2 linked regions of the Homo sapiens genome follow. The protein of the gene in region 2 purifies or fractionates together with the protein of the main gene of each other region. This does not show direct contact. Each region holds a gene or a part of one and is shown on either strand. Other genes may lie near its edges.

The links.
Region 1: the proteins of YAP1 (region 2) and PATJ purify together in Homo sapiens (affinity purification with mass spectrometry; 7 studies listed by BioGRID and IntAct, with this or other methods). This does not show direct contact.

Annotation. Positions count from the first base shown.
Region 1 is NC_000001.11:61,740,716-61,744,464, reverse strand, and holds the start of PATJ (inaD-like protein), read right to left. Parts: upstream 1,986-3,749; 5' UTR 1,910-1,985; exon of another isoform or gene 1,681-1,909; intron 1-1,680.
Region 2 is NC_000011.10:102,225,372-102,229,120, reverse strand, and holds part of YAP1 (transcriptional coactivator YAP1), read right to left. Parts: intron 1,653-3,749; coding exon 1,540-1,652; intron 1-1,539. UniProt on the Homo sapiens protein: Transcriptional regulator with dual roles as a coactivator and corepressor. Critical downstream regulatory target in the Hippo signaling pathway, crucial for organ size control and tumor suppression by restricting proliferation and promoting apoptosis.

The sequences.
Region 1 (3,749 bases), on a different chromosome or scaffold from region 2:
CAAACCCAAACAAACTAGAGAGCCTGAGGGAGAAAGCTCATGCTTGCAAGTCTGAGATAAAGATCGGTCTCAAGAAGGAACTAAAATAACCACCCAAGAAATTCTTTCTTTAGGAATGCAGTAATTCAGATAAGATAAGATAAGATAATCTTTTTTCCTTTTTTTTTTTTTTTTTTTTTTGAGACAGGGTTCTTGCTCTGTCACCCAGGCTGGAGTGTAGTGGTGCAAACACCACTCACCACAGCCTCCATCTCCTGGGCTCAAGCAATTCCCCTGCCTCAACCTCCCGACACACCTGACTATTTAAAAAGCTTTTTCTGTAAAGACAGCCATGTTGCTCAGGCTGGTCTCCAACTCTTGGCCTCAAGCGATCCTCCTGCCTAAGCCTCCTAAGTAGCTGAGATAACAGGCATGAGGCAGGTTGCCAGGCCTGATAAGATGCTCTCCATAACACCTGCCCAGTAATGGCATCTTCAACAATGGCCAACTCTGGCTTTCAGTCTGCAAAACCAATAAACTCTGTTTTCACGCAGCTTATCTGCACTTACTTTGCCAATAAAAGTTTCCTTTTACCCTCCCCTCTTCCATGCATATATGGCTTGCCAGGCCTGTGCACCTCGGGCTATAACGCTCATTTCTCATTCCCAAATAAATTCAACACATTTGGAGTGTTTTGTTGTTGTTGTTATTGTTAACATCTTAAAGGCCATTAGGGGCCCTAAAAACATCAAAGCTCACTTTAGCTAAAAGGCTCAATCTCACCTAACATTTTCTAATGCTGCAAACAGATTTAAGTTTTTAACCGCTGCCCCTGCCTCCACTCCTTTCAAATAGATGTGTGCAAATTAATTTGCAGCCAATAGGAATTTAGCCCAGAATGTGGTAGTATCATCCTCAGTGGAACCGACATTGTCCTTCTGGGTTTCCAAAGGCTTCTGCCTTCCTTTAAGAAACACTTGTCGCGCACCTACCAATAGCCAGACCCTAAATGCAGTCGAAAAATAAGGCCCTGAAAGGGGCACCCTCTAAATGGCAGAGGCAAGCCAGTAAACAACCAACTGGAATTCAAAGTGACAAGAGCCACTTGGAAATATGACAAAGTGCCAAGTGAAGGGGTGTTCACTTAATTCGGCCTGCGTGCGGGACGGCTGGGGCGCTTTGGAGAGTGGGAGTGATCTGAAAATGCTTTCCTGAGCTTGATTTAAAAGCAGGAGTCCAGGAATTTCCCCTAAGGCTGGAAGCACTTTCCGACAGAACCTCCCCATCTACGCAGCAAGGCTGGCAGAGCCCAGGGCCTGACCGCTGGCTTGGGAACCTCCGCTACGGGATGACCAGGCGCCGCGACGCGGCCGGGCCCAAGTCGCCCCCTCAGCCCGGCTCTGAGCACCCCCTCCTCTTTGTCCCCTCACCCCGTTCCCTCCTTCCACGGCCACCGATGGAGGGAAAGACTCCGCCCAGCTCTGGGAGCGAAACAGGGGCACCGATCTGGGCGCAAAATAGGATCCGTGCCACCCCCGAATACCAGTGGGCCGAGATTCGAGGCCCGAAAGGCCTGGGGAGGCGGGGCGGCGCCCCTCCCTGCCCGCGGCCTCGGCGAGCCCTGCGCGGCGGGGCGGGGACCACCGTGGGGTCACCCGGGCCCGACGCAGGAGGACGGCGCCCCCGCCCCGCCTCCCGGGTCAGCGCGGACGCACGCCGCGGGCGCCCCATCCTCGCCGCGGCCCCTCTGAGCGCCCGGCGGCGCCCTCCACCTCCGGCTCCCACCCACTCCAGGCGGGCGGGCGGGGAGAGCGCGGGGGCAGGGCAGGCAGGCCCGGGAAGCCCCGAGGGAGCTGCCCCCGGCCGGCCTCCAGGCGCGGGGACACCCAGGGGCGAGCGCGCACTGCACAGCCGGGACCTCACGCTTTACCTGGTGCGCTGGAGGAGCAGGTGGGAGCCCGGGTCGGGCGGGCTCGGTGTCGGCCCTGCCTCACCTGGGCGGAAGTGAGAGGCCCAGGGTGACCGCGCCTCACCTGGCAGGCCCTCCCCTCGCCCCGACTCTCCCCGCCCGGGGCGGGGCACCGGGGTGGCGCAGGGGGCGGGGGAGGGAGCCCGGGGCCGCGGGAGGCGGGCTCCAAGGAGGGAGGACGGTTGCCCTGGCTGTTTACGTGCAGGTGAATTCCTACCGGGCGCGGGATGGCCAAGGGCCTGGGAAAAGTGGGCTGTGGGGGCGGGGTGGCGGATCAGACCGCGCGTGGTGGGGACAGCCGCCACTGACGGGGAGGGAGATCCGGACAGACCGGTGTGGTTGGAGGCCTGCGTGTAGAGCGAGACCCAAGATCAAGGAAATTGAGGAGGATATCGATGAAAGCGTTGGGTCAATCCGCTTAACACTTTGTCTTTTTGCCCCTTTCCTTTCCTGTTCTCTCATCCCTCCTTTGTTTTCTCTATTCGCTGACGCAAAATAAAATATTCTAAAACGTGTAAATGTGGGAGTCATTATTTTCTTCTCATTTAGTGGAAGAAAGAAATCCAGCAGTATTTGCCTGCTGTATGCTAGGTGCTAGCTTATGCAATGTCTCATTTACTCTCTGAAGAAACTAATGAGGAAACCGTGCACCCTGTAGGTTGACTGGCCCAAAGTTTGGAACACAGGCAAGGCATTTTGACTCTAACTACAGTGATGATTTCACTATACGTTAATTTTCTTTTATTTGTGATGTCACACCTTCGAGAAAAATATGTCCCGATAGCCTTCTTCCACTCCCTTTAATAACTTTAGGCTTTTGATGATAGGGGTTTTACTTTGCCTGATACAGTCCACACATTAACGATAAAGAGAATCAATCTTCAGGTATCTTATTCATAGAGTACATACAGTAATTGTTAAACACTGTGATTGATTGTGGGAAGATGTGTAAAATGGTATCCCTGTCCCCAGGAAGATGAGGAATAGATACAAAACAACTACAACATAAAGACTTTCAGGCGGGGCGCGGTGGCTCACGCTTGTAATCCCAGTACTTTGGAAGGCCGAGGCGGGTGGATCACCCGAGGTCAGGAGTTCGAGACCAGCCTGACCAATATGATGAAACCCCGTCTCTACTACAAATACAAAAATTAGCCGGGTGTGGTGGATGCGTAGTCCCCTCTACGCAGGAGGCTGAGGCAGGAGAATCACTTGAACCCAGGAGGCAGAGGTTGCAGTGAGCCAAGATCCTGCCACTGCACTCCAGCCTGGGTGACAGAGAGAGACCCCGCCTCAAAAACAACAACAACAACAACAACAACAATTAGCCCGGAGTGGTGCCGTGAGCTTGTAGTCCCAGCTACTCTGTGGGGCTGAAGTCGGAGGATCACTTGAGCCCAGGGGTTCAAGACCAGCCTGGGCGACAGAGCAAGACTCCATCTCAAATAAATAAATAAATAAATAAAATTAAGATCATGCACTTGGTGCTTTGTAGTTTGCTTCCTTGTTTTAAAAGAAATGTAACACTTGTTAGTCATGGTAAGAAGACACACAATATCAGCATGGTTTCTGCTTTTTAGGAACTAACAAACTACTGAGGGAAATAACAGGCAAATTGCCAGATGGAAGCCAGACCTCAGAAAATGAAGAGATCTATTATGTTTTTTGAAAGCATGGGTTAGAACTTAAACAGGTCTTAACCAGAGTCTGAGATTAATTTAGGTAAAATGGAGAAGGAAAGGCTTTCCAAGTCGGGGGCAAAATAAAGTTGGAGATTGAGTGGGAAAAGGGAGAGGATTGA
Region 2 (3,749 bases):
GCATATGACAACATTAACACTCCTCAGAGCTTCAATAGAACATACTTTCAGAAAAACTAACATAAACCATTAAGTGCTACAGGGGTCTGGAGAAGAGAGCAATACAGATTAGAGGAGTAAGTAAAGGTGTTGTGTGTGAAATGGGTTTGAAGTGGCTCCTAAGGATGATTTAACATCTAGATAATCAGAGAGGAGGGGTAGTGTGGATTCTAGAAAGCATCAAAGCCAGGAGCTGGATGAATACAGGCACAAAAGCCTTGCTAAACACTTTCAGAATAGAAGCAGTTAGTGAAAGAGTTGGTAGCTAAAGAACAGCTTCATTTCCCTGCCAATTCATGCACTCTGGCAGTTGTCAACTCTAGGGCAATGGTTGCCAGGTAAGCCACAGGAGAAATGCTTCCGTAATTACCCCTGTGAGGCAGGTATTTCTTAGCTCCTGCAAGACCCCTGCAACTATTCTTTTTTTTTTTTTTTTTTTTTTTTTTTGAGACGGAGTCTTGCTCTGTCACCCAGGCTGGAGTGCAGTGGTGTGATCTTGGCTCACTGCAACCTCCGCCTCCCGGGTTCAAATGATTCTCCTGCCTCAGTCTCCCGAGTAGCTGGGATTACAGGTGCATACCACCACATGTGGCTAATTTTTATATTTTTAGTAGAGACAGGGTTTCACCATGTTGGCCAGGCTGGTCTTGAACTTATGACCTCACGTGATCTGGCTACCTCGGCCTCCCAAAGTGCTGGGATTACAGGTTTAAGCCACCGCACCTGGCCTTCTGCAACTATTCTAACAAAGTAAGTGAGCCCCACCTCCTAGTCTTTCCCACCTGGTTTCCTGAGCCCCATAACACTTAAGGTGGACCAAAAACTCTTAGAGAAAAGATGAAGACAAACACTGAATTACATGTAGACATCTCTCAAAATTAAGGACACTAATCTATAAGGAGAGAGATGTTCTAACAGGGTTGTCAGTTTGTCCTGCCAATTAAGATCAACATGCTAACATAAGTCATGTTATCAGAGTTTTATTCAAATAGAGCTAATATATCCAATTTATGATTTTTTTTTTTTTTTTTTGAGAAGAGGTCTCATTCTGTCACCCAAACTGGAGTGCAGTGGTGTGATCACCGGGGCTCAATCCATCCTCCCACCTCAGCCTCCTGAGTAGCTGGGACTACAGGCATGTACCATGACAGCTGACTTATTTTTGTATGTTTTTTTATAGAGATGGGGTTTCACCATGTTGCCCAGACTGGTCTTGAACTCCTGGGCTCAAACAATACACCCACTTTGGCCTCCCAAAATGCTGGAATTAGAGGCATGAGCCACTGCACCCGGCCAATCCATGATATATATTTTTTTAAACTAGGAAAAGACAAGTTACAAATCACCGTATAGAGACAAAGCAGGATCAATTTAATTCAAATTTACAGGATTTTAATTGGTTTTCTTCTGAATCATCTTTGCTTACAATACCTTATGAGACCTGGTGATAACATATCCCACTGTTAAGTCAGGTTACTAAGAGGAATAAAGAATACCAACCTGTATCCATCTCATCCACACTGTTCAGGAAGTCATCTGGGGTTCGAGGGACACTGTAGCTGCTCATGCTTAGTCCACTGTCTGTACTCTCATCTCGAGAGTGATAGGTGCCACTACATAAACATGACAGTTAAAGACCAACACAAAAAATTTTAAAAATCAATTCAAGGTAAAAATAAACACCTGCTGAGCAGCAACATAATTCTCAAAGAGGATTAGTGAAAATTCCTGTCCTGCAATGTCTGAAACAAGCACCCTCCCTCAGGGCCATAGACAGGGCTTGTGCTATGAAGTGAAATAGACAAGTTAATCCTAATTGAAGCTGGCAGCTCTAAGGAACCAAGATTTCTCCTAAGGTTCTGTGCTTGGTGACAATAAGGGACAAAAAAAGATACCCCCAGTTAGTTTTCCTGGCTGACAGAAAATTCTCTGCATCAGTATTCTCCTCTCTGTAATATCATTTGAATCTGGGGGTGCGGAGGAACCCATACAACTTACTTGTCCCAAGGCCTCAATTCTCCAGGTGGTGGTGGCACAGAGACGTCACAACACAAACTCCAGGTGGGCGAGGAGACAGGTCTGCACTAGACTCAAGTTAAATTCCTAGCTATTGTGCAGAGAACATAAGCCAAGGAAAAATCAACCCCAAATAAACCACCAGAATTCCTTTTAGGACTGAGCCAAAATAGGTGAGTCACTGCCAATAAGATAAGAATACTCGTGGCTTGATCTCCTTGCTTCTGTGTTTGGGCGGGGGAGGAAAAAGCCTCAAACACTTCAGTACGAAACGAAACGGGAAATCATATAGCTCCAGTTAAAGAAAAGAGCAAAACAAAAAACTGCAAGGCACATCCCTTGAAAATAAAATGACCCAACACAGATTTTCACTTTAGACTAAGTAAGGTTTCCCAGATTTACATTAAAAGTATGGTAAATATCCATTACCCTGAGAAATAGAACACTTTCCTAAGCTAGTAGCATCTAGACATCAGCTGGCATTCCCTGAGTTCTACTAACTCTACAAAATCTTAGAGAAACGCATAAAATCAAGGCAGCTGTTATTCTTCAATGGTCTGTGTGAGTGTGAACTTCAACTTTCTCTACGGCTTGTACATTTAATAAGCAGCTATTTAACTTACATAAAAGTTAAAAAATAAAAACAAGTTTAACAATTGCTCAAGGCTAAAAGCTCAGTCAATACCCCAACTGCCTTCCCTAAATGATGCAATGCATTTGCCTTGTTCTCTCTCTCCCCTCATTCTATATACTGCCATCACTGGTTTACTCTAATGCTTCTGCCAGATTTTGCCAAGGCTCAAAAGCCTCACACAGATCCAAGAAAACACACATTTGCCTCTGAGACCATTGGTATACAATGCAGCCATATATGAGAAGGCCTCAGGATGTGGTTTGTTTGTATTTTGCCTGCCCTGATCTGGGACAAGAGCCTGGTCCTAGTCATCACTCTATTCGGCTGCTAAGCATGGGACACACATCAGACATTTTAGTCTATTACTGAATAACTGAACTTACAGAGTTGCGCAGAGTTCATTCCAAACCACAGGGGAAGCACATGGGCATTCCTGAGGACAGAGTTTACAGGGCCATTTTCCTGGTGAGGAACTGCTCCCTGCAGAACCCCACTTCCTACAGGCCCCACTCATTCAGTAAACATTCACTGAGCATCTGCTACTACATGACAGGCATTAGACTAGGCTTTGAGGATAAAGAGGTTAACAATCACCACCACCTACAAACAATGTTTTGTGAGAGGCTCACAACTTCAAGGAGGGAAATGAACAAATATACTAATGAATCATATTTAGGGGCTATATGAACTCAGATGTAAGCACAGTGCTTTCAGAACAAACAGGGAGCTTAGAAGTAAAGGGTAAAAGTTTCATGGAGGGGGACATCTGAGTGAGCTTTGAGGGTAAAAGTAAAAGGGAACTAAGGGAACTCAGCATTACTACTAAGAGTCAATGCCAAGGCAAGTTGGGGCAAAAAGTATTTAGAGCTTAAGGAATATACATAAATCAAATAGTAAACAAGGGAAAAACCATCAAGAGGTTTTTTTGTTTGTCTTTTTGTTTTTTGAGACCAAGTTTCACTCTTGTTGCCCAGGCTGGAGTGCAACGGCATGATCTCGGCTCACCGCAACCTCTGCCTCCCGGGTTCAAGCGATTCTCCTGCCTCAGCCTCCCGAGTAG